3 linked regions of the Homo sapiens genome follow. The protein of the gene in region 2 interacts with the protein of the main gene of each other region in a biochemical or structural test. Each region holds a gene or a part of one and is shown on either strand. Other genes may lie near its edges.

Region 1 (11,218 bases), on a different chromosome or scaffold from region 2:
CGCGGCAGGGGCCACCACGTAGAAGGCTACCTAAGAAGCCTGCCTAAGAACAGACCAGGCCAGGAGAGGGGAGCCACCAGGCACTGCGGGTGGCACATAAGCCCCGTCATTCACTCTGCCAGGGCGCCTCCTCCATGCTGGAGTGGACTTCGGCCCCGGGGACACAGGGCACCATATGCACCAGCACCCAGTCACACCTGCGGCCGCTGCACACCTGGACAACCTGGTTCTGTAAACCACGCCTTTCCCTGTTTTGCTATTGCCAACCAGATTTCAGGTTCTGCCACTGAGTCCTCCTACAGCAACAGCAGACCACAGCCGCCCACCTCCAGACAGCCCCCGGTCTCACTGGCCACAGACTTGCTCCTTAGAGGCAAGGCCACTGGCAGGCTCTCAGTTCCTCTACGGAATGTGAAACGTGCCTCATCTCCCCAGCCGGGAAAGAAACTCCCCAAGAGCTGAGCCCACCCTCTTCGCTTCTCTGTAACTTCCCCAGCCCCCAGCGCAGGTGGGGGCACAGCAAGCCCTCCTCAGTGATGGTCTCAGGTGTCACTCCCAACCCACTTCCTAAGTGCCTGCCACAACCCAGACACGACCCAAGCGTGGCCTACACACCGACAATTTCTACTGATAGAGTTCATGATGTTTAAAAATGCGGGCTGGGAAGCCGGGCACAGTGGCTCACGCCTGTAATCCCAGCACTTTGGGAGGCAAAAGCGTGCAGATCACGATGTCAGGAGTTCAAGACTAGCCTGACCAACATAGTGAAAGCCACGTCTCTACTAAAAATACAAAAACATTAGCCGGGCGTGCTGGCAGGCATCTATAATCCCAGCTACTCGGGAGGCTGAGGCAAGGAGAATCGCTTGAACCTGGGAGACGGAGGTTGCAGTGAGCTGAGATTGCGGCATTGCACTCCAGCCCGGGCGACACTGCAAGACTCCGTCTCAAAAAAAAAGTGTGGGCTGGGGCCAGGCACAGTGGCTCACACCTGTAATCCCAGCACTTTGGGAGGCAGAGGCGGGCAGATCATTTGAGGTCAGGAGTTCAAGACCAGCCTGGCCAACATGGCAAAACCCCGTCTCTACTAAAAATACAAAAATTAGCTGAGCACGTTGGTGGGCGCCTGTAATTCCAGCTACTTGGAAGGCTGAAGCAGGAGAATCACTTGAACCCGGGAGGCGAAGATTGCAGTGAGCCAAGATGGCACCACTGCACTCCAGTCTCGGCAACAGAGCCAGACACCGTCTCAAACAAACAAACAAAAATTGCTACATTCTGGGCCTTCATCTTGCACTTCATGTATCTCTGAGAATGTTCCAGACCACTACCTGAAGCAGTGCCGTCAGAACAGCAGACACTGGCCACCCAGAGCTGTCAAACCCGTGAGGTGTGGCCAGTCCCGAGAAAAACTGCGACATGAAATACACACCAGACCTCCAAGGCTTCACGGCAAAAACAGAAGGCTAAATACTTTTTTTAAAATTATGAATTTCTGTTTGTTTGAGAGATGGGGGTCAACTTATGTTGCCCAGGCTAGTCTTGAAGTCCTGGGCTCAAGCGATCCTCCCGCCTTGGCCTCCCAAAGCGCTAGAATTACAGGCGGAAGCCGCCGCACCTGGCCCTGCCTGGTTCTTTTTACAAGCTGCATCCTATTCCAGCCCTGATGCAGTGGTTTGGGGAAGGCCATTTAAGAGGCTGCTGTTCCCAGCGGGGTGCGGTGGCTCACGCCTGTGATCCCAGCACTTTGGGAGGCCGAGGCAGGTGAATCACCTGAGGTCAGTAGTTCGAGACCAGCCTGGCCAACATGGTGAAATCCTGTCTCTACTAAAAATACAAAAATTAGCCAGGGGTGGTGGCGGGCTCCTGTAATCCCAGCTACTCGGGAGGCTAGGCTGGAGGCCGAGGCTGCAATGAGTCGAGATCGCATCACTGCACTCCAGCCTGGGCGACAGAATGAGATAGTGTCAAGGAAAAAAAAAAAAGGCTGTTATTCTGGTAAACGTTCTAGCAACTACCCCAGTCTTAAGTCATTCCATCCATGTATGTACAGTTTTCCAATGAATTAATTCCTAGAGGTGAAATCGGCGAGTTAAAAGAAATTTGGCTGAATTTTGCTGACTTTTGCCAAACGACCCCTAGCAGGAGGGGTCAACACTGAAGCATGAGAAGGGGGAGGAGGGAGCATGCTTTCTCTGCCACTAACGAGGAAATTCCTGAAGGAGGGACCTCAGGATCCCAAAAGAGCCTGCAGCACTCTCCCTAGCCTGACACAGAGCTCACTTATTTACATTCCCTTCTGGTGACATCATGGGGAGGCTCCAGGGAGGCTGGCCAGTAGCAAACTCACCAAATAAGGCTGGAGGCTCTACAAAAGGAGGCAGGGCCTAGTGGTGCCTGGCTAGTCTGGAGGGGGTGGGGCCCCAGGGGGACCCTCCAAGGCCCAGACAGGCAGGAAATCAGCTGCCTCCCTGGAAGAGGAAACCTCTGCTTTTTCCCACAAGCATGTTAAACAATTGACCGAGGTTTGGGCCCAGCTGGGAGACACGCCCCTCCCTCCCCCCACTTTAAACATCCAAGAGCTGGGCAAAAAAACTAAAGTGCCTCCCACAAAAGAGGATTAACACAGGGAGATTTTTTTTTTTTTAAATAAATGGGGTTTCACTCTGTTGCCCAGGCTACAGTGCAGTGGCACGATCATAGCTCACTGCAGCCTCCTCCAACTCCTGGGCTCAAGCCATCCTCCCGTCTCAGCTTCCCTAGTAGCTGGGACTACAGGCATGAGCTACCACACCTGGTTAATTTTTTTTCATTTTTATTTTTTGTAGGGATGGAGTCTTGCTATGTTGCCCAGGCAGAAGACACATCTTTTAATAACAAAAGCAGCTGGCATCTGTTGCTCTGGTGCCCCATGCCAGGCACGGTCTTGGCTGCTGTAACGGCTCAATTACTTTTCTCCCCACAGGAAACACACAGAGGATTCCCAAGCAGGAATTCACAGCCGGGGCTGTCTGACTCCACGGCCCAAATTCGTTCCCCCACCGCATGATACTGACTCATTCCTTCTCAGCATACAGGATAAAGAACAGGAAAGGAGAGCTGCTGTTCAGAAAACCCCACAGCGCCTCTCTCCTATCCCTGGAGCCCAGCCGTGCGGGCAGACAGCTCACCTGCCCAGCTCCTCCCCCATCTCATAATGGTCCTCCACGTCCTCCTGCCTGAACGTGGACATGGCGGCCGGTCCGCCTTCCAGCAGCTTCCACTCCAGGGAAAGTGCAGTCACCGCAGCCTGGAGATAGGACCTCAGGAGTCCCCTAATGGCAACCCTGGAGAAGACAGGGAAAGACAGAAGTGAGGAACTGAGACACCACCCTTTTCTCCTAGATTAATGGACAGACCTGTCCAGCAAACACAAGCCTCCCACCTCTCCACTCTGAAGCTCCAAACTCGACAAAAAGAGGTGCTGTGTTTACTGGGCTGGGTCCTGTCATGTCACCTCTTAGAGCCCCATAACCACTCAAAAGTTTGGTAACAGCCCCACTGGGCCACCTTCACCCCGCAAAACTCTCTCCAGACACATAATTCTGATTTCCCCGACGCTGCCTGCGTCTTTTTTTGCCTCTCACTCCTAGACTTCTCTCAACCTGCTCAGCCAAAATCCCCCACCATTCCTGCACGTTCTCCTCAACCTCAAATCCCAGGGCTACCTTACTCCCTGGCCAATGTCTTAACGAAGTTCTCAAGTCTACTTCTTTTGTTGTTGGTGTTGTTGTTTTTTGAGAAGGAGTCTCGCTCTGTCGCCCTGGCTGGAGTGCAGTGGTGCAATCATGGCTCACTGCAGCCTGGAACTCCAAGGCTCAAGCGATCGTCCCAGGCCTCCCAAAGTGCTGCCATTCCGATCAAAATTCCCAAGTTACTACCTTAACCCCTCCTGGTCCTTGCCCTCGGCAGGTCTCTTAAGACCCTCATCGATGGAACACCCCCGCCCACCCCCAACCATCTCTGACTCCCTCCAATTCTGAATTTTCCAAGAACCGGACGACGCCTTCCACGCTCCTGAAAGCCCACTTTGCCTCCCTCCCCCGCTGACCTCCACTGTCCTCGCAAGATTAACCTCTTCCTCCACGCTCCATGTATCAAAGTCCCCCAACCGCCGTCTCCCCTACCCCCCAAAACGGGCCGCCAAAAAGGGCCCCATCTGAGTCTCCTCCACCGTCCTCTGCCCCTTCTCGCCCGCAATCTCCGCACAAGCCCCTAGGCAGACCCCAGTGGCTCCCTTTGCAGAACCTCCCCCCGCCCCCAAGGCCTTGCCCATCCCTAAGGCTCCGCTCCAGCATCCCTGGGGCCGCTACGCCCCTCGCACGCCCGGCCGAGCCCTTTCCCCGGCCCGGTCACCCAGATGGGTCCCCAAACCTACCAGCTCCTCAGATTCTCTCCCTCCCTCGTCCTCCGCGGGCCCCCGAAGCGCCGCTCTGGCCCCACCCAGCCCTCCAGCCTCGGCCCGAGCCCGCTCTTTACCCTCCGCAGCCCGGAGAATACGGCCGGCGCCGCCGCGCTGGCCACCGCCGCCGCCTCCAGAAGCCCCGCGCCCCTGCCGCCGCGACGCGCCTGCGCCGACGTCACCGCACCCGCCAGTGCCCACCCCCGGGAAACGAACCCCGCCGCCTATTGGCCGGTGCGCCCGCCGCTCGTGCCGCACCTCGACGTCCCGCCCCCAGCTGCCTTTTCGGCACCCACACCCGGATGCAGCCTCACCACTGGCTGAACACTCGCCATCCCTGATTTCATTGGCTGCAGTCGACGCTGGTCAAGCGGACGGAAAAAAGGCCGACTTCCGGTCCCTTCATCGCCCCGCCCGCCTCTCCTCTGACCCAGGTGCTGAAGCTGCGAGAAGTGAGGCTGAAGCCCTGCATCCCGCTTCCTGCCTTCCTGGAGCACCGGTTGGGCGAATGGATGGCTCACCTGTGGCCGAGCGCGCCTGGCAGCTCCTGGAGTGGACCCTGGGACTGCTTTAGTCCCTATGTGGCAGTTTCCTCCACTGAAAACTGTTACCCACATTCTAAATACTTAAAATGCAAATGAGGTCAATCTGGGGTTGTCATACACAGGGTCCCTCTTCGTCTCAAAATAGAGGGTAACAGCAAGCATTTTATTGAGACATAGTATGTGCCAACTGACAACACTGGGAGGTATCAGGTTTGTTTTTTTTTTAATTTTATTTTTTGAGACAGGGTCTCACTCTGTCACCCAGGCAGGAGTGCAGCGGCGGTATCCAGCTCACTGCAACCTCCACCTCCCGGGTTCAAACGATTCTCGTGCCTCAGCCTCCCAAGTAGCTGGGATTACAGGTGCCCATCACCACGCCCGGCTAATTTTTGTATTTTTAGTAGAGACGGGGTTTCACCATGTTGCCCAGGCTGGTCTCGAACTCCTAAGCTCAGGTGATCCGGCACCTCAGCTTTCCAAAGTGCTGAGATTACAGGCGTGAGCCATTGCGCCCGGCCTAAATTCATTTTTTATTATTATTTTGAGACGGAGTCTCGCTCTGTCACCCAGGCTGGAGTACACTGGCACAATCTCGGCTCACTGCAAGCTCCACCTCCCAGGTTCACGCCATTCTCCTGCCTCAGCCTCCCGAATAGCTGGGACTACAGGCGCCCGTCACCACGCCCAGCTAATTTTTTGTATTTATTAGTAGAGACAGGGTTTCACCGTGTTAGCCAGGATGGTCTCGATCTCCTGACCTCCTGATCCGCCCGCCTCGGCCTCCCAAAGTGCAGGAATTACAGGCATGAGCCACCTTGCCCAGCCTTTTTTTTTTTTTTTTTTTTTTTTTGAGACAGTCTCCTTCTATCGTCCAGGCTGGAACGCAGTGGTGAGATCTGGGCTCACTGCAATCTCTGCCTCCTGGGTTCAAGCGATTCTCCTGCCTCAGCCTCCCGAGTAGCTGGGACTACAGGTGCACGCCACCACTCCCAGCTGATTTTTGTATTTTTAGTAGACGCAGGGTTTCACCATGTTGGCCAGGATGGTCTCAATATCTGTGATCCGCCGGCCTCGGCCTCTCAAAGTGCTGCGATTACAGACGTGAGCCACAAGCCGGCCTTTATATTTTTTATTTACATTTTCAACGTACAATGGGTTGGCCAGGTGTGGTGGCTCACGCCCGTAATCCCAACAGCTTGGGCAGCCAAGGCGGGCAGGTCACTTGAAGTAGGAGTTCAAGACCAGCCTGCTCAACATGGTGAAACCCTGTCTCTACTAAAAATACAAAAGTTAGCCAGGCCTGGTGGCACATGCCTGTAATCCCAGCTACTCGGGAGGCTAGCGCAGGAGAATTGCTTGAACCCAGGAGGTGGAGGTTGCAGCGAGCCGAGATCATGCCACTATACTACAGCCTGGGTGACGGAGGGAGACTCCATCTCAAAGAAAAAAAAGTGGCAGGGCATGGTGGCTAACGCCTGTAATTCCAGCATTTTGGGAGGCCACGGTGGGCAGATCACGAAGTCAGGACATCAAGACCATCCTGGCTAACACGGTGAAACCCTGTCTCTACTAATAAATACAAAAAATTAGCCGGGCATGGTGGCGGGTGCCTGTAGTCCCGGCTACTCGGGAGGCTGAGGCAGGAGAATGGCGTGAACCCGGGAGGCGGAGCTTGCAGTGAGCCAAGATTGAGCCACTGCACTCCAGCCTGGGTGACAGAGCAAAGACTGTCTCAAAAAAAAAAAAAAATTCAGCTTCCACATACCATCTTAACGTTTGCACTACTAAAAAAGAATAGGACCCGGTATGGTGGCTCACACCTGTAACCCCAGCACTTTGGGAGGCTGAGGCGGGCTGATCTCTTACGGTCGAGCTTGAGACCAGCCTGGCCAACATGGTGAAACCCCATCTCACCTAAATATACAAAAATTACACAGACCTGGTGATAGGCGCCTGTAATTCCAGCTACTCGGGAGGCTGAAGCACAAGAATTGCTTGAGCACTTGAATCCGGAGGCAGAGGCTATAGTGAGCCAAGATCACAACACTGCACTCCATCCTGGGCGATAGAGTGAGATTCTCGAAACACAGTAATCCGTTACCCTGACTGCTGGAAACAGCGTCAGTTACAGCCCCAATTCAAATGCGACAGCCAAACCAAACCTCAGGCATACCTACATGTGGGCAAAACCTCAGCTGAGGCTTGGCCTTGACAATGCAGGGCCAGAGCTGCCCCCGCCTTTGCCGAGAACCCCACAGCCCTACTTCACAGTCCCCACCTGCCTTCCTGAGGACAGAGTAAAAGGCGGAAAATGATCATGTTAACCTTATCAGCACTGACAAGATTAGGCCTCCTCACATCTTAGGCACTATTTAGAAAAACAAATAGTTTTCTAAGCTATTGGCGCTCACACCTGAAATCCCAGCACTTTGGGAGGCTGAGGCAGAAGGATCGCTTGAGCCCGGGAAGGAGACCAGCCTGAGCAACATAGTGAGACCCCATTACTACAAAAAAAGTAAAAATTAGGTCAGCACAGTGGCTCACGCCTATAATTCCCAGCACTTTGGGAGGCCGAGGCGGGTGGATCACGAGGTCAGGAGATCGAGACTATCCTGGCTAACACGGTGAAACCCTGTCTCTACTAATAAATACAAAAAATTAGCCGGGCATGGTGGCGGGCGCCTGTAGTCCCGGCTACTCGGGAGGCTGAGGCAGGAGAATGGCGTGAACCCGGGAGGCGGAGCTTGCAGTGAGCCAAGATTGAGCCACTGCACTCCAGCCTGGGTGACAGAGCAAAGACTGTCTCAAAAAAAAAAAAAAATTCAGCTTCCACATACCATCTTAACGTTTGCACTACTAAAAAAGAATAGGACCCGGTATGGTGGCTCACACCTGTAACCCCAGCACTTTGGGAGGCTGAGGCGGGCTGATCTCTTACGGTCGAGCTTGAGACCAGCCTGGCCAACATGGTGAAACCCCATCTCACCTAAATATACAAAAATTACACAGACCTGGTGATAGGCGCCTGTAATTCCAGCTACTCGGGAGGCTGAAGCACAAGAATTGCTTGAGCACTTGAATCCGGAGGCAGAGGCTATAGTGAGCCAAGATCACAACACTGCACTCCATCCTGGGCGATAGAGTGAGATTCTCGAAACACAGTAATCCGTTACCCTGACTGCTGGAAACAGCGTCAGTTACAGCCCCAATTCAAATGCGACAGCCAAACCAAACCTCAGGCATACCTACATGTGGGCAAAACCTCAGCTGAGGCTTGGCCTTGACAATGCAGGGCCAGAGCTGCCCCCGCCTTTGCCGAGAACCCCACAGCCCTACTTCACAGTCCCCACCTGCCTTCCTGAGGACAGAGTAAAAGGCGGAAAATGATCATGTTAACCTTATCAGCACTGACAAGATTAGGCCTCCTCACATCTTAGGCACTATTTAGAAAAACAAATAGTTTTCTAAGCTATTGGCGCTCACACCTGAAATCCCAGCACTTTGGGAGGCTGAGGCAGAAGGATCGCTTGAGCCCGGGAAGGAGACCAGCCTGAGCAACATAGTGAGACCCCATTACTACAAAAAAAGTAAAAATTAGGTCAGCACAGTGGCTCACGCCTATAATTCCCAGCACTTTGGGAGGCCGAGGCGGGCAGATCACTTGAGGTCAGGAGTTCGAGACCAACCAGGCCAAGCAAAATTCTGTCTCAAAATAAATAAAAATTAGCTGGGCATGGTGGCACATGCCTGGAGTCCCAGCTACCTGGCAGGCTGAGGCAGGAGAGTCCAGGAGGTGGAGGATGCAGTGAGCTGACTGCACCACTATACTCATCTGGGAGACAGCAAGACTCTGCCTCTAAAAAAGTGTTTACAAGGCCGGGCACAGTGGTACAATCCCAACGCTTTGGGAGGCCAAGGCGGGTGGATCACAAGGTCGAGTGATCAAGATCATCCAGGCCAACATGGTGAAACCTCATCTCTACTAAAAATATAAAAATTGGCTGGGCGTGGTAGCACACGCATGTAATCCCAGCTACCCAGGAGCCCGAGGCAGAATTGCTTGAACCCGGGAGGTGGAGGTTGCAGTGAGCAGAGATGGTGCCATTCCACTCCAGCCTAGCAAACGGTGAGACTCCATCTCAAAAAAAAAAAAAAAAAAAATGGGTTTCTAATAAACTAGTCAGGACTGGGGTGACCACAGAAAATCCTGATGGCAGATAGAACTTGTGAGCTCGTCAGCAATTCGGAAAGTTGCTGAAACCTGCGAAGTTCAATCCAGAGCCCCTCGCTCCACAGGGCCATCCAAATGCGTTCAAAGTGACATCTCGTAATTCCTTGCCGCACTGATCCTACTTCAAATGCTCAGCAGACCCGCGCAGCTGGCAGCTGCTTCTCTGAATGACACAGGGGTAGGGCATTCCCACCATTCCAGAACGTTCCACCTAACACTGAGGCAGCCCCAGGCTGCACCTAACTAGGGCCCGGGTCCCCTTCTAGGCTCCAGGGAGCCCAGTACTGGGCAGCCCCGCTCCCCTGCGAAGACACCGTGAAAAATGCAGAACAGAGTCACCACCTTATCAAATTTATTATTCCAATGGCACTAGTACAGCTGGAGGTGCTCATGGTGACACCGCACAGGACTTCCTGCCTGCTAGAAATCATCTACCCGCGTGTTCCTTTCCCCTTTCTGGGGCAAAAGCCACTGCGGGCCATGTACCCAAATAAACCTCTTAATGCGTTTGTTAAAATTAGTTTGGACATCTGAGTTTCCCTCTGAAGAAATGGAAAAAGTGTTGGGTGTCCCATCCCGCCTCCCCCTCCCCGACCGGCCCATTAAGTCCCTACTAAGAGGGCGTGTCTGCTGCCTCCGGACTCTGGAAATAAATATTGAAAGAAACGGCATCAAGTGTTATGGTTGAGTGATGGCACGCAGCGGGCCCCAGAAACCTCTCAGGGGAGCGTCGCTGTGTCGGGACAGTCTCCAGGTGTCGTCTGAGAATTCGAGGACGTGGTGCTGTGGGTGCTGCGAGTCCCCGGGGCGGCAGGCGCTGCAGGAAGGGCCGCCTACAATTTGTCCAGGAAGTTGTCCAGGGCAGGGATGCCTTCTTTCAGGCCCTTGCGCTTGCGGGTCTCCGCCACCACCTGGCTGGGGCGGCTGCTGTTGTCGAAGGGGTCTCCGGGCAGGATCTGCCAGTGGTCAAACACACACTGGGGGAACGCCTGGCCGCCCGTGTTGGACCTCAGGTCAGCGGTGAAGCCTGCAGAGGGAAGCGAGAGGCTCACTGGGCCATCGAGAAGGTGGCAGGGCAGAAGGAAAGTCCTGTCAGGAGCTCAGGCTAGTTCCTCAGCCTGAGTCACCCTGCAGACCAGACACTCGGCCTGGTGCCCAGCACTTCACGAAGGGCCTAGCAGGCCACTCATGGGCCTCATGCCGCTGCTCGTTTGGGACAACCCTGTGCTACAGCTCGGCTGCTCTACCGGCCCAGGGCGTAGGCCTTCAGAGCTCCAGGCCCAGAGCCCTTCTCACACTGGGGATAGGAGAGCCCCTCCCCTGGGAATTCAGTGATTTAGGGGGTCCACAAGCTGTCAGAAACTGGACCACCTGCTCCATCCATCACCTGCTCCCATCAGGACGCCTCCTTTAACACCTTGCTAAGCTTAACTGGGCTTCTGTCCCCCAAACCAGCCTGCCAGGCTCTGCAGGCCACACCGGGCAGGCACTCACCAAAGGACTCGTTGACGGGCAGATAGGCCTTGACCACAAACATGGGGGTGCCGGCCACCTGGGACTCCTCGAACACGTGGCCCCGCTTCCTGTTCAAAACCCCGTAGATGCCACCGACCACCTGCTCTGGACACTGCCAGAAGGGAAAGAAAACCTGTCAGTGGCCGCTGGGCAGGACGGTGGCAGGGTCAGCGGTGGGCGGGTAGACCTCACCTGGATCTCCACAAGGTAGATGGGCTCCATGAGGCGTGGCTGGGCGGTCAGCACACTGGCATAGAGGCAGCGCCGTGCTGTGGGGATGATCTGGCCCCCTCCGCGGTGGATGGCGTCGGCGTGCAGGGTGACGTCGTGGACGTCGAAGCGCACACCCCGCATGTTCTCCTCACACAGTGCGCCCTGGGGGAGGGGGAGAGCCACCGTCAAGGGCCGGACACACCTCGGCTGCTTGCCCTCCACCTGCCAAGTCCTGCAGGTCTCCACCAGGGGGACCTGGGGCCTTGCCCGCCT
Region 2 (10,409 bases):
CAAAAACTGTGTTTCTTATAATTTAAGAAATATAAATTTATTTTATATTTCTGTTTCTTATATTTTAACACATATCAATTTTGAGATGCAAATCAGTATAATTGCTGCTCGTAGGATAGACAGTATTAAATATATACATTGTGAGACATTCTGATCAGGCTACAGGTACTAATTATGTAATTAGGAAATTATAGGTTTAATGAGAAGCACCCATCTCGGTCAAAAAGGTTAGAAGCTCGACATTTCTCTAGCTTCTTTAGTTATACAAAGTTGAGCAGGTCAGGTAACTTCAGTAATCTCATCTGTGAAATGGGATGACAATTCCTACTTTATCCACTTCCTAGCGTTCTGAGGATCAAGCACAATTCACAAACGCTTGTAAAACTGGCTCATGACCATAAGAAACTATCGACGGTGTTTCCATAATCACTTTCTTGGGAGGAGCACAACTGCCTGCGCTCAGGTGACTGCCCCACTGCTTATTCCCTGTGTAACTTTGGGAAGTTACTTCCTTGCCCCCTGACATTTCATTTGTAGAACAGGGATAACAATACCTACCTCAGGCCGGCCGCGGTGGCTCATGCCTGTAATCCCAGCACTTTGGGAGGCTGAGGCGGGCGGATCACTTGAGGCCAGGAGTTTGAGTCCAGCTTGGCCAACATAGTGAAACCCCATCTCTACTAAAAATACGAAAATTAGCCAGGTGTGGTGGTGCACACCTGTAATTCCAACTACTTGGGAGGCCGAGGCACGAGAATCGCTTGATTGAACCTGCAAGTGGAGGTTGCAGTGAGCCAAGACTGTGCCACTGTACTTCAGCCTGAGTGACTCTGTCTCAAAAAAAAAAAACAAAAAAAACCCAAAAAGACCTACCTCAAAGGGCAGTTGTGTAACGTGCTTCGTACATAGTGAATACTCAGTGCATTTTCACTATGTGACCACACACACACACTCACTGCAGTGGCCACAGAATCAACCATCAACTTAGGAGATTGTCACTATGTGGTTCTCAAAAGGAGATATTAAGTAGACAAAGTTTTCATCGTCATCATTAATAATATTTACTGGACACCAAAAAGAAACAAAGTCTTGGCCCAGGTGTCTTCCACTACTGGATTCCACAACACTCTTCACAAATAATACAGATGAAACAGAACAGTGTGTCAGGTAAACGTAAGGCAGTCGAGAAACAACTAAGTTTTTTTGTTTTTAATCTTCAAAACTTTTCTCTCAATTTTTCAAATCTGGCTTTAAGCAGATCAATAAAATAAGCACAGTTACGATTATGCCAGAGATGGAAACAAGGCTGAGCTGGAGGGGAGGAAACAGATAGGACCCGGAGAGGCGTTTTATAGCTATCTCCCCTGGACCTGAGTCCATGCTGCCCCCTCTTGCCTGGACGACGGCAACAGCCTCCATACCGGCCTTCTTGCTTCTCTTCGTGCCCCTCCATTCAAGACACAGCACCAACACTGATTTTAAAAATATAAATCACCTTTCTTCCCTGCATTTCACATTAGGACTCTGCTCCAAATACCCTCCCTGGACCCGTATCATCCATGTGCTCTCCCGATGCTCCTACCACACGACAGCCTCGCCCTGATCCTCACATGGGTCCGGACCTCCTTCCTGTCATTCAGATCTCAGCTTACCACCCAGAGGCCTTTCCTGACCACCCTGTCATGCATGCCCAGTTCTCTGCACAGCACTTAACCTGAAATTGCACATGGATTGTCTGCCAGCAGAGAATGCAGTCCCACGAGGGCAGCATCCTTGTCTGTCCCACCCCCCAGTTATCCCCAACCCTTACAACAGTGTAGGGTACATAACAGGTGGTTGACAATGGTTCAATAATCATCAAGATTATCCCACCGTATTTTTCTGTTTCCTGTGAAACACACAATTCTCCACCTGGTTTTGTGACACATTGTGGTGAGTTTAAGCTTCTAAGTGGAAAAAAGAGCCAGATGTAGATTCTTATATTTGTTAGATCTTGGGCAGGAGCTTCAGTCTAAACTTCAGGTCTATTAATAAAAAGTAGAACTGATACCTCAGAGACTAAGAGGATTGGGTGATAAATGTGACAGTTCATATGAGCTGCTCCCTCATTCTAATGATAAAAGGAAGCCCAGGCAAATTGTTAGCAAGTGAATACAGACCAGCCTACTGCCCCAAGTTGTAAAGCACCAATATTAAACAACATATAAATGCTTTGGTGTTAAGCAGACAAAATACCATCACAATACTTTTAAGAGGGGAAATCGGTATTGAACAACGTTGGGTAATTTTTTAAAACGGATTTTTTCCTTTTTTAGATTGTTCTCTTTATTCTCGTATTGCTTGGCCTTGAGGATTCTGAGCTCACAGCAACCTTGTCTTTCGGCTCTTTTCTAGTCTATATATTACATGAAGTGCCTTCAAACACACAATAGTATTGTTTATTTTAACCTGGAATAGAATTTTCTGAAATTCTGTTCCAATCATCAATTACCCCAAGATTATTTTAAATTTCAATAATGACCACAGAATTGTATCATAATAGAACAGAAATGTCTTGACTCTTTTAGACATTTGGGGCTTTTCAGAGACAGTATCGTGGTTCCAGCACTGTGAGCTCTGAAGTTAGGTGCCCTAGGTTGGAATTCCAACTCATGTCCTAATAGTTACCCTAATCAACTGCTCAAGTATGCTAGGTCCTCCCACTTGAAATACAGGGCTAATAAAAATCCCACAAGGTTGTTGGGAAGATTCAAGAAAAATTGTGTAGGCACAACGCTCCACATATAGTAAATGTACAATAACTAATCTTCGGAATTTTGCCTCTTCTCAGAATCTTAGATGAACGCAATGTTTAATGTTTTCCCAGATACATTCTATATTTATCATTTAATAAACATCTGACTAGAAGCGTGAAAAACAATGGCATAACTAGTTTTTACTGCATAATAATGTTAAAGGGTACTTAAAAGTTCTGAAGAACACTGTCCCATATATGTGAAAAATCAATTTTACCATAAAACCTGAATCATATGAAGTTGAAAACCTGAAAAAAGGACTACCCCCACCTATCAATCATTTGTTTAACTTGCCATTACATTGCATTTGAGTCAGCATAATCTTTATTTCAAAATAACATTTTTATTATATAAAAATGTAAAAATCCAGCAAAACCAGAAATACGAATATATTTTTCTGGGCTTTCACATTTGTTGATTTTTATTCGCGATCTTTTTCAATACAATTTACACCCTCATCCCCATTTCCAGTCTGATTATACAAGTGCTAAGTGGCAGAAAGGTCTGGAATAAATACATCAAAAAGAAGAGGCAAAGCTGTGAAACTAAGTTGCATGCAACAGGTTCTATGAGGGTGGGGGAAGTGTCTGAGAAGTAAAAGAGAGTAAGACAATGTAACTGGAAGATTTTAGCTAAAGTTCTTTCAGTCATCTTTGTCTTTGGCTCCATGTTTCAGGATGCGTGTGAACTCGATGTAATTGAAATTCCCCTTTTTGTCAATAGGTGCTTCTCTGTACAGCTCATCCACTTCCTCATCTGTAAACCGATCCCCCATGGTTGTCAGCAGCTCTCTTAGGTAATCTTCCTGAATGGTGCCTGGAAGACAATAGAAAGAAGAAAGCAGTCATCAATACTTCCTGGCACTTTGATGGTTCATTCCTAAAGCTTGTCAATCGTATAAAATATTTCAGAATATCCATATCTATAAACAAAGTAAGTTAGTGAACTAAGGCTATATGAACTATATCATTATGTTTTCCAATTATTCTTAGAGTTCTGTGTTAATATTAGATCAAATCATTTAAAAGCTCAGAAACAGATCATATGCTTACAAAATTATTCTTAAGCAAATATTTTCTAAAGGTAAAAAAAGAAAACCCCTTCTATTTCACAGAAGTACTTTATATAGTGTGGAATGAGGCTGGGCATAAACAAATAGCACTCACCTGTTGCTTCTTCATCAAAGCAAGCAAAGGCGTTTCTGATGACATCTTCAGGATCTGTGCCATTTAACTTCTCACCAAACATGGTCAGGAACATGGTGAAATTGATGGGCCCTGGGGCCTCATTCATCATGGCATCAAGGTATGCATCAGTGGGATTCTTCCCTGTAAGAATACACATTTTAACATTTAAAGACAAAAACATTTAATTTCAATAGTTATTTCACTATTATTATGCTCCCCAACATATTTTTAAAATGTACATCATTTGAAACTAATTTTTCAATTAACTTTAAGAACATTTTAAAAAGATTATTTTTGACAACTTAAAAAATATTGGATACATCATTATAAAAATGTATTCCAGGCTTATATTGAAGGTTATTTATTCGTTTATGTGAACTTTCTGTTCATTATTTTTCATTAAAAACAAAACAAAAACCTGAAGCCAGGCAGTGCCACATTATTACATCTTAATTTTTTTTTTTTTTTTTTTTTGGACTATAGGCATGTGCCACCATGCCCTGCTAATTTTTTGTTTTTTGTAAAGACTGGGTTTCACTATGTTGCCCAGGCTGGTCTTGAACTCCTGAGCTCAAGTGATCCACCTGCCTTGGCCTCCCAAAGTGATGGGATTGCAGGCGTGCATCACCGCGCCCGGCCTACATCCTGAATGTTGATAACATCAATGGTCCATCGGGGAGTCAGTTCAATACCAGTCATACAAAAAAATCTAAATATTCACACTTCCAGTTGTGGTACAGATGCCCATAAGTTGATATGCTTCAAAGTTGTATTTATAAGTTGGCCATTTAAGTTTAAACTATTAGCATGGTTTTGAATTGGCAGCTTATTTTGAACAATGTTAGATATCTTCAAACACTGTTTACACATGTCATTGAACTGTGGTCTTCTTTGGTATTGTTTGTAATGGGAAATCTTAATCTCCATTCCAAGTGTGAACACTTCTTTTAGTGCAGTGGTGAGGGAACTCCCCTGACCTTTCCCTAGGAGCTGAAAGAAATCTCCCTGGAATGGCCAGACATGGTGGGAGTGTTTTTGAGGCCCCGTGGTGTGGGAAAAGCAGCACTGAACCAAGGATCTGGAATACTGGGTTTGAATCCCAGTTCTACCACTGGTTGTGTGATATAGGAGGAAGTGGCAGAACTGGCATTCAAACCCAGTATTCCAGATCCTTCGTTCAGTGCTGCCTTATGTAGAATTTACTTCTTTTTTTAAAAAAGTCTAACATTGACTGGTTAAAGTTGGTATCTCAAAGGTATCTTCCAACATTAAGTTTATATGATTTTACATGAAAAGAACATCTATTAGTCAGATATTCATATCTAAGGAACCATCTCAAAATTATACCCAACTAAGTCAAAGCTAGAATGACAATCAAAGCTACCATTATAGTTCATATGTAAGTTTTAATTCTGGGAATTTGGGTGAAATGTAAACATCATGTTGGCATCTATTTCACTGCATTGCAGTCCTACCTGATTACACTTACTCAATGTTCCAATATCAAAATTAGCCCAAAATTAAACTCAAGATTCACTGAATAAGTTAAAGTAGCTAAAAAGATCTACTTTTCTACCTCCAGATTTAACCCAACTCACTTGCAGCATTTTTTGGGGGGAAGAAAAACTGTAACCAAAAGGTGTGAAGAGAACGCTAGGGTACAAAAAGTTACAGGGATTTAAAATGAATTGGTTTAGGCTAAGCACTTATGGACCCGCTCAAGACATCCAATGTAATCTGTTGATTTGAAAGGTAAATACGTATCTTTTAAAAATTCATATTTATTTAAATTGCTTTGGGTACACAAGAGGTGTATATATTTATGGGGTACATGAGATACTTTGATACAGGCATATAATGCAAAATAATCACATCAAGGTAAATGGCATAGCCATCCCTTCAAGCATTTATCATTTCTTTGTGTTACCAACATTCCAACTATACTGAGTTATTTTAAAATGTACAACAAATTACTGCTGACTGCAGTCACCTTGTTATTCTATCCAATACTAGATCTTATTCATTCTATCTATACTTTTGTATCTATTAACAGTTCCCACTCTTCTCCCTGCCCTTCCCAGTCTCTGATAACCATCCTTCTACTTTCCATCTCCATGAGTTCAATTATTTTAACTTTTAGCTCCCACAAGTGTGTGAGAACATGTGAAGTTTGTCTTTCTGTGCCTGGCTTATTTCACTTAACATAATGTCTTCCATTCCATCCATGTTGCTGCAATGACAGGATCTCATTTTTTATGGTCGAACAGTATTCCATTGTACATAAGTACCACATTTTTAAAATCCGTTCATCTGGTGACGGACACTTACGGTGTTTTCAAATCATGGCTGCTGTGAATAGTGCTGGAATAAACATGGGAGTGCAGATACCTCTTCAATGATACTACTGATTTCCTTTTTTGGGGGTATATACCTAGCAGTGGGATTGCTGGATCATATGGGAGAGCTCCTATTTTTAGTTCTCTGAGGAACCTCCATAATGTCCTTCACAGTGGCTGTACTTATTTACATTCCTACCAATAATGTATGAAGGTTCCCCTAAAAGGTAAATACATATGTTAAAGCAAACTAAATATGGCCTGAGAAAGACTCCGTACTTCTACAGTTGAGTCCTTGTGAATGAATTATAACCTAGCTTAATAGTCAGACAAGACTGAAAACCTAACTTAGGAGTATGAGCCTGTAACAACTGCTAAGCCTTGGCCAATCTCAGCAGCCATACTTCAACCATTCATACACTGCTGAGTGTTCAAACCATGTTCAAATAAGGCATATGCCGAGCTGTAATCAATCAAGCCATTCCATACCTCACTTCCAATTCCTGTACGTCATTTCCCTTTTTTTGTCTATAAATCTTCTTCTACCACGTGGCTGCACTGGAGTCTCTGTGAATCTGCTGTGATTCTGGGGTTACCTGATTCGCAAATTGTTCATTGCTCAATTAAACTCCATTAAATTTAATTAGGCTGAAATTGTTCTTTTAACACGTATCTTTAAAAGGATGGGTTTCTGCAAAACAGAAGGTCTCAAAGACAACCTCTGACTCTACCATGACTTGTTCGTTCAACAAATATCTATTGAGCATCTATTATAAGCAGAGTATAGACTTGAGAGTTCAATCTTTGGAAGATGGCTACATTCCTCAATTTTCCTCAGAGGCCTTCTTCAGTACTGACTTGCCCAAGAACATACTCAGACATTCTGAATGTGAGAAACACTAGGTTATAATCTAACTACAAGTCAACAAATCAGATAAAAATCTTTGATTCTACTCTCACCCTAGATAAAGAAAAGTTACAAAATGTTAACAATCAGTGAATATAGCTAAAGATGTATAGGTGTTCACTATAATGTTCTTTCCACTTTTTGTAGGCTTAAAAGTTTTCAAAATCATATGTTGGATAGGAATAAGTACACACCTAAACTTTACTTTCAATGTGTTAGGAGAAATAATCAAAATCAAAAGTTAGAAGAATAAAAGCTAGCTGATCATTTTGTAGGCATTAAAAGAGAGAAAAAAAAAACCCCCACCTCTTTCTTTGCCTTTTTGGCCAGTCAGCCAAGCAGGAGGACAGAGCGCAAAGTCTCACTGTAGGCCATCCCTGACCCACTCCCAGCCTGCCTCACCCCCTCCGCTTTGGCCTATCAAGGTCTCCTTTGCCTGCAGTTCCTTGACTCCCAACTGTAAATTAACTGCTGACTCTGGCCAGAACATGTAGGATGCATGTTAAGAAACAATAACAAAATCATACAAGGAATATTAACACCCATATACCAACATACAAATGGCTGTTTATGTGTGCTTTAAATCCTGTATCTTTACATTTTAGTTATTAAAAAAATCATACAAAATATTGTGAAAGTCTTCTTCACTGTGTTCCCTTTTCCAGTCGCACTGCCCCTCCTTCCCAGAGATAACCATCATCACTTACTGTCACTCCTTGTTTATAACCTGTACTCAACCTTTATTAAGTATATTATTTAGCTACACTTGTTTGAAACTCTGGTATTTTGCTGCCTAGCCATGCCCTGGCTTTCCATCTAGAGACCTAAAAAATTTAGCTAACAGGAACATTAGCCTACCCGGGCACAGCATCTGCCAGGTCCCCAACCTTGTAGGCTTATCTCCATATGACTGGCCAAGCCCCAAAATAGCACCTCCCACACCCAGAAATCTCTCCAGAGGCCTTTTGAGACAAGGAGAGAAATATTTGTACATCGCACAAAAAAAAGATTCATAAAGAGACAAATTATTATTTTAGGGAAAATACAAATAAAGAATATAAAGTCTACCTAGAGAAGCAAGCATATCATGCAAATCTTCCTTGTCGATGAAGCCATCTCTGTTCTGATCAATCATGTTGAAGGCCTCTTTGAACTCCTGAATCTGTGACTGGTCAAACATGGCAAACACATTGGATGTTGCACGCTGAGGGCGCTTCTTGGTGGTCTTGGTCTTTGCCTTTTTGCTCGACATGGTGGTTGTTTAATTCTGGATTAAAAAAAAAACACAAAAACGTAAAACAAAACAATGTATAAAACAAAGCAAAAACAGAATACATAATACCTAAAGTCTGTAGGTAAAAATATCAATAAGGAATTATTACTTCAATTGGGTAGGAATAAGTATGCACCTAAACTTTATTTTCAATGTGACAATTAAATGACTGAGTGGAAAAAAAGCAGTTTTGAAACATTAAGGAACAGAATTTGCCAGACACCAGTGGCTCATGCCTATAATCCCAACACTTTGGGAGGCCAAGGTGGGAGGCTCACTTGAGACTAGGAGTTCGAGACTTGCCTGGGCAACATAGTGAGACTCCCATCTCTAAAAAAGAAAGAAACACAATAGAAATTATTGATGTACCTTGTCCTAAACTTCAGGGGATCAATTTTTATGAAGTGAGAATTTAAAATATCTAACAATAGCTAGCATCTATGGAGTACTTACTCTGGCCAAGCACTGTTATGAAGGCATAGGGCTTCCTCAAAGAGAAAGTCTCCAAAGTTGATTTCTTACTCTGACAAAGACTGTCCCCATTTAATCCTCACAACAGTTGCCTATGGTAGGTACTCTTATTCCCATTTTACTACCAGTATAACATAACCTCTCTGAGCCTCAATTTTTCATCAGTAAAACATGATATCTACTTCAATGCAAAGAACTAATTGAGATAACATATGTAAAAAGACTAGTCATGTTCAAAAAAGGTCTCATCTTTATAAATATCAAACCCACCCTTTCATCTTTCTAGCTATCCCTGCATTTCCCTTTTCCCTTGACAAGACTTTCAGAATACCAGTCTAATGCTGAACTGTCTTCATTTTTCCTTCTGTTTTTTATTTTAGAGATGGGGGGTTTCTCACTATATTGCCCAGTCTGATCTTGAACTCTGAGGCTCGAGATCCTCCCAAACTGCTGGGATTACAGACATGAGCCACCGTGCCCAGCCCCTTTTCTCTTCTTCCCAATCATTCCTCCATTCTCCGTAATATGGCTTTGGTAGTAGCTTCCAACACTCTACTGAAAGCCACCAATAATTTAAATGTCAAGCAGAAAAGGCACTTGTCATTTCATTTTTAATTTGCAGTTTTAAATAATAAATAAAACACAAAAATACCATCAGCTCTGGAGTTAGGAAGTCCTGAGTTCAAATCTCAGCTCCACCGTTACTAGCTACATATAACCTCTGAAAACCTATGTATCTGTGAGCCTAACAGCTTTCAGTGAGTTCTGTGAGTCTTAGCAAATAATCAAACGCAAGGGTGGTCTTAGGACATCCAAACTTGAAACTGCTGTCAGAAATGATGGTCTTGCAGACTGTTTCCGTAACTTCCTGCAATGTGAAAAACAAATGACTAGAGAGGTCAATGACTGAGCAAGGGGATTTTGGACCTAAGTCTCCAGGACTTCTGGTATTGGGATTTTTTATATAAATGTATTGTCTACTTCTATTTATTCAAGCTAAAGAACATCCCACAGGGTGTTTTGAAGCTTGGCTTAGTGGTGTTGTTTTGAAGTACACCAGCCTTACAGTCCTTACTCTAACATTCCAACTCCTTACCCTCCCCATATACAAGTCCTAAATAAATGTTAATTTTCTTCTCTTCCTTGTAACTTAGTTTGTTATTTGACCTTAGTTATATCGAAGGTTAAATCAGAGACAGAATGTAGTCTACTAACAAGGCATTTGATTATGTTTTCATTCTTCTTCACATACCAAAACTTAGATTAAGGTTCATTCTCATGCTAAAAATTTTGACTCAATTTCTTCAAGATTAGTCAAATACATCTGAAGGCAAAAATTATTAGTTCTCTCTCAGTATCAGCAAGTAATTTTTGTAATCGAGTTATTTAGAAAAAGTTCCAAAAGAGTTAAATATTTATTTTTAAAAACGAATCAGGCCG
Region 3 (10,580 bases), on a different chromosome or scaffold from region 2:
TTTATTAAATAATTTGTGTGACCTAGGAATTTTAAAGAAATGCTCTGAAAAACTGGAAGTCTGAAGTTTTTAAAAATGAAATGTACAGACTCATCTATCTTGTATAACTGCTATTGTTTTTGCCAAAAAATGAGTGAATGATTGTTTTTTGGAAAATTTTTCAAGTCCTGATTTTATGTCTGCCTTGGATGTAGCCACTTCCTGAAAACAAGTCCTAATGTAAAATGGACATGTAGGAAGATGCTGCTTATATGACATCACGTGTCACTGAGGGAAGATTGGGAGTGGAGGCAGGAGTTTGGTGGCAGGAAAATGGAAATGGGCAGATATGTGGCACAAATGCAAGGTCATTCTAAGCAGTGAATTACTAGTAGACCAGTATCTAAGATTTAAGACTTTACTTGGCCAGGCGAGGTGGCTCACACCTGTAATCCCAGCACTTTTGGGAGGCTGAGGTAGGCAAATCACGAGGTCAGGAGTTCAAGACCAGCCTGGCTAACATAGTGAAACCCTGTCTCTACTAAAAATACAAAAAAAATTATCTAAGATTTAAGACTTTAATTGGCCAGGCGCAGTGGCGCGCGCCTGTAGTCCCAGCTATTTGGGAGGCTGAGGCATGAGAATCGCCTGAACCTGGGAGGCGGAGGTTGCAGTGAATGGAGATCGCGCCACTGCCCTCCAGCCTGGGTGATACAGCGAGACTCTGTCTCAAAAAAAAAAGAAAGAAAAAAAAGACTTTACTTATATATCTTTAGCAGTCATCTAAATAATAACGATTCACTTACCTTATAAATGTAGTGAGACAAAGTACATAGCCAGGAGGAAAGATGGGTTTTTGAAGAAGTAGAGTACAAGTATTATTGTTAATGTTATTTTACTTTTAGGAAAATTGAAAATGTTCGTATTTGTGTGTACTGCCTAAGACTTCTGTAAAAGCTCTCTGTCAACGGTCAGGAACTTTATAGAGTATTGCAACTATTGCAGCAGTCCATCTGCAGCAGTAATAGAGCAGATGGGCCACTGGACAGATACCCTGGTCCAAAACCTGGCTCTGCAACTTGCCAGTTTTCTTGAACAGGCCATTTACCCACTCTGACACTCAGGATTTTCCTCTATGAGAGGTTTAGTGCTTTTTTCATTGCTGTTGTAAAAATAATCTAACTTGTAAAAGTAGTTGATCAGCAGTAGAGAGTTAAACAAATATAGATATTATCTGTAGACTGGCTGAGACATCTGGGTGCCCCAGGCAAGCTAATAACTTGGCCGGCAAGTCAATATTCTTTAAGTTTCTGTTTACCAGCTTTGGGAGGGGATGCCTTATAGGAAAAGGGTCATGGGGAGAAGGGTTGCTGACAGCATTCAGCCTCCACTATGATTCTGAATAATGCAGCCCTGGCCTTGAGCTGGCACACCCTCCAAGCAGAAGCAAGTCCCTGCAGCAGATGCACTTGTTATCTTTAGAAGGGTGCTTGGTGGCCTTCAGTTTTGGCTCCTGGAGGCCCTTTAGGGTCTCACCCTCTGTCCCAGGAGGCGGAACAAAGAACTGCCTCCATGATGTGTAATAGTCTCTGGGAGGAGTTCTTATAAATCTGCTATTATACCGAGGTGTTTTAATGCCCCAGGATGCCCTAGCATCTCTTATCAGTTGGCACCTCGGGCAGCTGCAGGCTGACTTGCCCCATTGTCGGGCTCTAGTTACACCCTTGGCCGTCGTTCAGCCTAACCTGTGAGCCTCCTGGGCACCTCTCTGTGTACACTGCTTTCCTGAGGGACTGGCCTTCTTTCCTATTGCACCATCTGACCTTATATGATCTTAAGACCTAAGTCCTACTTCCTTAATGAATCCTTCCACAATGAGTTTCCCCTTTTAAAGTCAAGTGACTTCTCTGAGACTCTCTTTGTCCATGACCATAGACTGCCCAGTGACATGTTTATCCTGTTTCATGTTTATTAGTCTTGTATTACTCTTTGCAGCCAGCTTGTGAGTTTCTTTGGGGTGTGCCCTGTGGTTTGGAGTTGTTGTGGTCCTTTCTCCCCATGGTGTGCAGGGTTTCATAGACTTCCTGCAAATTGGTATCTATGATCAATATTGGGATTAATGCATGCCTCAATGAGCTAATGCAGTTTGGCAAGTGTAATTTTGAGACCAGAATGGGGATGTAAGATGCAAACGATGATGCTGATGCTGATACTGTTAGAGAGGCAGTGTGCAGTGTGGAAAAACCTGAGAATGCTCATTTGGAAAGTGGGGAGACACCTACCCTGGTAGAGTGTTGTTAGAATTACAGACGTGGCTTTAAACATCTGACATGCAGTCTGTCTTTCTAGTCTACAGGTAGATATGCATTTACTGAACACCTACTAAGTGTGATGTGTCTAAAATATATATATATGTATATGTTTTTTATATATATGTGTGTGTGTATATGTATATATATATATATTTTAGAGACAGGGTCTTACTCTGTTTCCCAGGCTGGAGTGCAGTGGCACAGTCATAGCTCACTGTAACCTTGAACTCCTGGGCTCAAGCAGTCCTCCCACCTTGGCCTTCCAAAGCTCTGAGATTATAGGGCAGAGACACTGTGCCTGGCCTCTAATATATCATTTTTATTATTTTTAATAACCTGTTTTCTCCATCACAGCATTTACCACATTGCATAGTAACTGCTTATTTGATGATCTGCTTTCTCCATGGGGCCATTACCTTGGACTTGCTCCTCACTTTTTATTTCTAATGCCCAGGTTGATGCATGGCACTTAGAAGGCGCTCAGTAAATGCATGCTGTTAGACTAGACTGAGTGGATCAATATATGTAAAGCAACTTGAAAGAATATGTATGTATTAGGGCCTCAACAAATGATGGCTTGTGGTGAAGATGAACACTTAGGATATAATGGCTGCCGCTCATCAAAATAAAAACTGCTCTTGTTTTTGCATTCTTTGTGGCTGAACAGTAATGAGCACAGCAGCCAAAATTTTCAAGCACAAGATCAGTTTTAAACAAAACAAATGAAGTGGAGCATTAAATATTTTACATTGGTTTGGATGGTCATTGGAAGCTAATAATTCAAGTTTAAAACATTCCCCTTTCGGCATAAAATCCATAGGCATTTTAATTGAAGTAAGAAATTGTCATAAGCCCTGGCAGTCCAAGTGCTTCTCTAGACCGGTTTACTGTGGATTGCAGGAGTCAGTCCTATGAATAATGGCAACCCTGTGTGGCTCATAGAAGGGGAGAGACTTTCTGGCATGTTTTTTCTTCAGAAATGGGAACCGCAGGCCACCGGTGGGTTTCTGCATCCTTATAGGACTGTGCTGAATGTGACATTTTTCCTCTTAGCATTTTTGACTCAGAATGCTCTCAGATGTTTCCTCTGATAGGAAAGGGTCCAAAGTTTTAAGAGAGATAAAGTTCAGCTACATAGATTAAAGGCAACGGTTAGTGATTTTAAAAGTGTGTACATTTTAGGAAGGTCTAATAATAATTTTCCAGGATGTGAAGGGAAAGCATGATGGTGTTAGTAAGTGGCAGTTTGGTTGAATGCTTGCTTGCTGGCACTGGGAGTGTGTTGCTGGATTACTAGGGCAGGCATCAAATTTAGGTTCAAGGGGGCCAGGAACAGAGTAGGTGGAGGTGCTTATTGGTCGGGAAGCCAGGGAACATGGAAGCTCACTTCTTGGTCCCCCATGCTCTTTTACCCTCAGCTTGTGTCTCCCCGGCCAATGAGGAAACTGAAGGCCCCATATCATTGGTATATGCCTCTGCAAAGCCATGAAAAACTCATAAGAAACCTACAGAGATGGATGTCCAGATAAATTCCAGTGCACTCATCCCTCGGTATCCATGGCGGATTAGTTCCAGGACCTCTGGGGACACCAGAATCCACAAATGCTGAAGTCCCTTATATAAAATGGCATAGTATTTGCATATAACTGATGTAATCTTCCCATATATCTTAAATCATCTCTAGATTACTTACAATACTTAGTACAATGTAAATGCTAACTAAATAGTAGCATTATAATGTTTAGGGAATAATAACCAGAAAAAAAAGTCTGTATATGTTCAGTACAGATGCAGTTTTTTCCTGAATATTTTTGGTACAAGGTTGGTTGAATCCATGGATGCAGAACCCACAGATCCAGAGGGCTGACTGTAGTTGTATACAGGTGTTATATCAGGAGAGGCAACATTGGCTCTTCCACCTTGTTCTCTTCCCTCCTAGCAGAGTTGTAATCCAGACCACTTCTTTCCAGATGATTAGGGGTGAGGGGCTGAGCTGCTGGATATCTGATATCTGGGAGTGGCATGGTCAAGGTCACATTGCCTGACTCAGCAGGGAAATGTGTTAGGAACTTTCATCCTTCATTCTAGCCAACTGCCATGAGTACCTAACATTTTGTATAAATTAAGTGAATATTATTTTAGTAGAAATTTATTTCTGATTATGAGACAAAGGAAGCCACTCTTCTGACAAGAGGGGAGTGGTTTCCATTGGGGAAGAGTACCCCAGAGAGCTCAGGGACTTTGTTTGTTTGTGTCTTTTTGTTTGTTTGATTTTGTTTTGTTTTTTTGAGACGGAGTCTCACTCTGTTGCCCAGGCTAGAGTGTAGTGGCGTGATCTCGGCTCACTGCAACCTCCGCCCTCTGGGTTCAAGTGATTCTCCTGCCTCAGCCTCCCAAGTAGCTGGGATTACAGGCGCCTGCCACCGTGCCTGGCTTATTTTTTGTATTTTTAGTAGAGACGGGGTTTCACCATCTTGGCCAGGCTGGTCTTGAACTCCTGACCTCGTGAGTCACCCTCCTCGGCCTCCCGAAGTGCTGGGATTACAGGCATGAATCACTGTGCCTGGCCTTTTGCATTTTTGGAGACGAAGTCTTGCTCTGTTGCCCAGGCTAGAGTGCAGTGGGGCGATCTTGGCTCACTGCAACCTCTGCCTCCCCAGTTCAAGTGATTCTCTGTCTCAGCCTCCAAATAGCTGGAATTATAGGCATGCATCACCATACCTGGCTAATTTTTTTATTTTTAGTAGAGGTGGGGTTTCGCCATGTTGGCTAGGCTGGTCTTGAACTCCTGACCTCAAGTGATCCGCCCGTCTCGGCCTCCCAAAGTGCTGGGATTATAAGCGTCAGCCTCTCGCTGTGCCTGGCCGGGACTTTGACCTGGAAGAAGGCTGAGTGACCAGCATTGCCTCCCTTCACATTTTATCCACCTGTGTTTAGACAGGTCAAGTGGCTTTCTCCAGGCAGCTGATTAAAAGGTGGCAAGACATGGACCCAGAACCCAGGGCCAGGCCTATTTCATTATCTGTGCTATTTAGGATTTGGCAGTTTTCCATCTTTGAAAGCCAGATGAAGTTGATATTTAAGAGAGGTGAAGTAGGCAGCCATTTGGCGCCAATTTATTTCAGCATCTGCATGGAGAAAATGGTTAGGGATAAATAGTAGACCCTTCATGGAAGGTTTTCATTTGAAGCCCAGCCAAAGGCAACAGGGTCTGCCCTTTGAGCTCAGAACTTTCGCAGGCCTTAACGACACACTGGGACCTTCTTTCCTTTTCCAAATGGCTTCAGCCTTGCAGTTTGGAATGATGTCAACATGTGGCGTAGTTTTATTCAAGTCCCAAGTTAATGGTTTACCTTTTTAGAAAACTCCAAAAACACTTTCATTGTTATTTAACTTTTGAGTTATGTAATGTCTAAGAGTCTTGTCTCTGACCCGTGCACCTACCTGCCACTGACCAACAGTTTCTCATTTCCTTACGCAACAACTAGTCTGGCTAGCTTAGAGTTGGTGTGTGATTGTTTGAGACTTTATGTGGAAGATAATATTTAATTGTTTTGTTCTGGTTTGTTGGGGTAAATTATACAAATGGAATGCATCCTTTCTCGGCCTTGAAAGAGGTTATATGACAGTACAATTATAATAAATTCAGTGTATGACTTTGGGTACATTCTATTATAAACGAATTTTTTTAAAGGTGCAGTTAGAAGAAGGTGGAAGAAAAAAGAAGTTGACACTCCGATTTTCCACATCATCTAACTAAAATGGATTTAAACTAACTTTCTCTAACTATTAAATCTTTCTTAGGTAAGTACAGTTGTATCCCAGCTCTAGAGTTAATGTGCTGGGTGGGTTTTTACAAATAAAAAATCTAAAACCTAAAATAGTTGTGTTTTATCTTCTGTCCCAATCCAAAACAAAACAAAACAATCATGTGATAGTAACTAATCTCTGGAGATACCTGACAAGCGTGGTCCAATAGTGACGCGGGTTTGTCACTTTGGTCTTTAGGTGACATTGACAGCTGGTGTGGCATATGGATCACACTGTGGTCATTGAAGTATAATGTTGCTTACTTCTGAGAAGTGATCATGGGGCCTTTTTTTTGAGACGGAATTTCGCTCTTGTTGCCCTGGCTGGAATGCAATGGCGCTATCTCGGCTCACTGCAACCTCCGCCTCCTGGGTTCAAGCGATTCTCCTGCCTCAGCCTCCCAAGTAGCTGGGATTACAGGCATGCACCACCACGCCTGGCTAATTTTGTATTTTTAGAGGATTTCTCCATGTTAGTCTGGCTGGTCTTGAACTCCTGACCTCAGGTGATCTGCTCGCCTCAGCCTCCCAAAGTGTTGGGATTACAGGCATGAGCCACCGCATCTGGTGTTCACGGGGCTTTTACCTTATGTACTACCTTTCGATGTTTCAGTTGTGAGCTTGAAAAATTTTATTCAGTAACCTAACATATAATTAGAGATGCCAGAGTGGTGGGGAGGGGAGGGAAGGAGGTTGGGAGAATGTTGTTGATTTTTTTTTTCCCTTTATAAACACATACAACTTTGGACGAAGAACATAATGTTTGAGCAAATGAATGCTTGTAAACTGCCGATCTCTGAAGTGTGAAAAGTTTATATTGATGGCACTTATATTCATAAGCCTGATGGGTTTTGGCTGGGAAATTTGGCTCGAGGTACGGACTTCTTTTGGGACACATTTTATTTTTCTGTCAAAACTGCCTGATTATTCTTATTTAGGAAATATGTGATGAATGAGGCTGGCTGGCAAATATTTTAAGTGCAGTTGATATTATAAATTTTCACCTACAAAAATGAACTACTTTTCATTGTTGAATAGTTATGTCTTAGTTCATTGCTTTTACTTTTGAAACTGTATAAACTTTTCCCTTTTTTTGGAGACGGAGTGTCGCTCTGTCACCCAGACTAGAGTGCAGTGGCATGCTCTTGGCTCGCTGCAACCTCTGCCTCCTGAGTCAAGTGATTCTCCTGCCTCAGCCTCCTGAGTAGCTGGGACTACAGGCACCCGCCACGACGCCCGGCTAATTTTTGTGTTTTTAGTAGAGACGGGGTTTCACCATGATGGCCAGGCTGATCTGGAACTCCTGACCTCAGGTGATCTGCCCTCCTCGGTCTCCCAAAGTACTGGGATTACAGGTGTGAGTCGCCGCACTGGTCCAACTTTTCCTTTTCACCTTAGAAAGATTGTCAGGATTTTTTTTTTTTTTTAAACGGAGTCTTGCTTTGTCGCCCAGGCTGGAGTGCAGTGGCGCGATTTCGGCTCACTGCAACCTCCACCTCCCGGGTTCACGCCATTCTCCTGCCTCAGCCTCCCGAGTAGCTGGGACTACAGGTGCCCGCCACCACACCTGGCTAATTTTTGGTATTTTTAGTAGAGTCAGGGTTTCACCGTGTTAGCCAGGATGGTCTCTATCTCCTGACCTCGTGATCCGCCCACCTCGGCCTCCCAAAGTGCTGGGATTACAGGCGTGAGCCACCGTGCCCGGCCACGATTGTCAGGATTTTTGAGACCTTACTACAACCCCTGACACCTGACCCACAGTATAGAATTTTCCAGGTGAAAAAGACATGTAGAGAAAGTCATCAATGCCATTCTTTTTTTTCCCCATTCATGAAAATGATTAGATTTTCCTTTGAGCTGCCTGTCTGTCTGCCTAGCACCTCATATGTCTATCCAGGACTGGGCTGCCTCAGAGAGGATAGGTACACCTAAAGCAATGCAAGAAAAAAAGTGGCGGAAGGATACCATGGGACAGGCAGAGAGAAGAGGTCAGAATTTAGTGTTGATTCAGTTCCGATATTTCCACCCTCCTTTGAGAAGTTTTTCGAAATTGTTTTGCCTCCTCTGTGTAAAGCTCAATTTTTGAGGCCATCTGTGGTTTATGGGTAAGCAGCAGAAATGTGTGTCTCTGGGAAAGTGATGAAAGGCTGCAACCTTTGGAGTGTAATATTTAATAGACTAGGAATTACAAGCTGTTTGGCTTTATAAAAACAAAGCTACAGGCGCTGCAGGTATACGTATCCTGTAGAGAACAGACTTTTAATGGGTGCTGCTCATGTTGGAGATGCTGAATGGTATATAATACACAGAAGAGCTGTCCTTAGGAATTTGGTAAGGCAAAAAGCGCTAAAAAGTTATTTATTACCTTAAAATAATATTTCATTGGCCTATAAATCAGTATAATTGAAAGCACAGCCTGCCAGCATTTTCTTTTCTTTTTTTTTGAAATGGAGTTTTCCTCTTGTTGCTCAGGCTGGAGTGCAATGGCGCAATCTCAGCTCACCACAACCTCTGCCTCCGGGTTCAAGCGATTCTCCTGCCTCAGCCCCCCGAGTAGCTGGGATTACAGGCATGCACCACCACGCCCCGCTAATTTTATATTTTTAGTAGAGATGGGGTTTCTCCATGTTGGTCAGGCTGGTCTTGAACTCCTGACCTTAGGTGATCCGCCCGCCTCGGCCCCCCACAATGCTGGGATTACAGGCGTGAGCCACCGCGCCCGGCCATCCTGCCAGCGTTTTCTTCTGTGCACTTGGGATGGGAATATAGAAAATTGTCTTCCTAGATATTGGCTTTGCCATTCAAAGTCTCTACAGTCAGTGTGTGAACTGCTGGGAGTGATGCCAGAATCTTTCACAGATTTCATTCCTGGGAGCTCTTCTGGCGTCAGATGATCGCGGTTTCTTTTCCTTCTGCACCACAGCACATGGAGGAGGCCTCTTTCTCACTTGCTCCGTTCCTTTGCCATTCATGGAGGCAGTGGCACCAGTGAGCTCACGGCCAGGCCGCTTTTGCCCTTTTTCTGACTAAGTCACTATAGATGGACTAAACAGAATATATTTACAGTTCGCCCATTTAGAATCGATAAGGGTGTGCCCCAGGCTCCATCGTATATTCCATTACATACAGCCTCAGGCATCCGTTTCAATTGTTTGGGAGAGGAAGTGAATTAGCACAAGTGGAATATCTACAGGATGAAACGTTGTCAGTCTGTGCGTTCCTCCCCACCCCTTCGTTGGCTGGAAGAGATAACGCTTGACACGTATGGAGCAGACAGGGTAATGTCAGCCTCGTGGCCATGGAGAAGCAGGAAGTCCCTTGGTTTTGTTCAGTGTGATTTGGGCATTGAATGAGTAGATCCTGTTTTAAGAATATTACTCATTAATATGAACCATCATTTTGTAGGTCTTTTAGAAGCAACATTCTCTTTAGTGCAGATAATGCTTATCTGCATTGAGAGAAGTTATAATAACCTGGAGAATGAGAAGGAAATACACATGCGAAATGGCCCAGCCGGTTTCTCCTGGCAACCTCTCCAGAGCATGTCCTAGGCTACTCCTCCAGGAAGGCTCCTGCTCTGATTTCCTGTATTCCTTCACGATTTGGAGTAGATAACTGGCCACTTGGCATTCTTATTACAGGGGACTTATGCGTGGGATTATTGGCTTCCCCTGTGGACTGTGAGTTTTCTGAGGGTAGAGAACATGGCCTTTTGTCTCTGGTGTTGGTTGGAATTCAGCTAAGTGCACGGTAAGCCATGTTTATTTCGTTGCCTTATAAAGGTACATATGCAGAAATTAGAACAGTGTTTCAGGGCTTTGGACCCAAATCCCTGTCTCCACAAAACACATTAGCTGTTACTTTGGGAAAGTCACTTGACTTCTGTGAGATTTAGTTTTTCTCATCTGTAAAATGGGGATAGTCATCACGGCTAATTCATAAGGTGGTTGTGAGGATGTCTGTGATATGTATAAAGTGCTTGGCACAGTACTAGGCACACAGTAAGTGCTTGAGAGGTGGACGCTATTTAACAAGACAGAGCAGGAACGGGAGAGAGAGGGAGAGCGACAGTATAACATGCTTCTGAATCTGTGTTCCCGGGTCCTACCTCTTCATTCATTCCTGCCCTGGCCTCCCACAGGCAGAGTGCGGGTGAGGGCTCACTTCTCCTCAGTTTCATCCTTCCTCCCTCTCTTCTCCTCTGCCTGTCTCTCCTTTGGCTCAGCTTGCCTGGTGGGCTCATTCTGCCAAGTTTGCCTTTGCTTGTCTGTTCCATTTTTCTAGGTATCCTTGCCTCCTTCCGACTGGACTCAGTTTATGTGCCGAGCTCTCTTGGTGAGTCCACCTTATTATGTGCTCATTAGATGATGCTTAGGGTTCCTAAGAAACATATTGACTAGGAATTTAGCTGTGCATCTGAAAGTTGGCTGCTGAACGCAGAGCTTCAAGGGATACCCTTTTCAAAGTCCACAAGACACCA

Evidence for each region.
Region 1: of the proteins of MYL12B (region 2) and DAPK3, one has a biochemical effect on the other in vitro, tested with the Homo sapiens proteins (one study listed by IntAct).
Region 3: of the proteins of MYL12B (region 2) and DAPK1, one has a biochemical effect on the other in vitro, tested with the Homo sapiens proteins (one study listed by BioGRID).

What each region holds. Positions count from the first base shown.
Region 1 is NC_000019.10:3,966,504-3,977,721, forward strand, and holds the start of DAPK3 (death-associated protein kinase 3), read right to left. Parts: upstream 4,597-11,218; 5' UTR 4,418-4,596; intron 3,327-4,417; 5' UTR 3,233-3,326; coding exon 3,171-3,232; intron 1-3,170. Other genes in the region: EEF2 (elongation factor 2), read right to left, coding at 10,051-10,244, 10,712-10,844, 10,925-11,107. UniProt on the Homo sapiens protein: Serine/threonine kinase which is involved in the regulation of apoptosis, autophagy, transcription, translation and actin cytoskeleton reorganization. Involved in the regulation of smooth muscle contraction.
Region 2 is NC_000018.10:3,270,967-3,281,375, reverse strand, and holds the end of MYL12B (myosin regulatory light chain 12B), read right to left. Parts: intron 8,493-10,409; 5' UTR 8,478-8,492; coding exon 8,294-8,477; intron 4,124-8,293; coding exon 3,962-4,123; intron 3,612-3,961; coding exon 3,439-3,611; 3' UTR 2,915-3,438; downstream 1-2,914. UniProt on the Homo sapiens protein: Myosin regulatory subunit that plays an important role in regulation of both smooth muscle and nonmuscle cell contractile activity via its phosphorylation. Phosphorylation triggers actin polymerization in vascular smooth muscle.
Region 3 is NC_000009.12:87,500,835-87,511,414, forward strand, and holds part of DAPK1 (death-associated protein kinase 1), read left to right. Parts: intron 1-10,580. UniProt on the Homo sapiens protein: Calcium/calmodulin-dependent serine/threonine kinase involved in multiple cellular signaling pathways that trigger cell survival, apoptosis, and autophagy.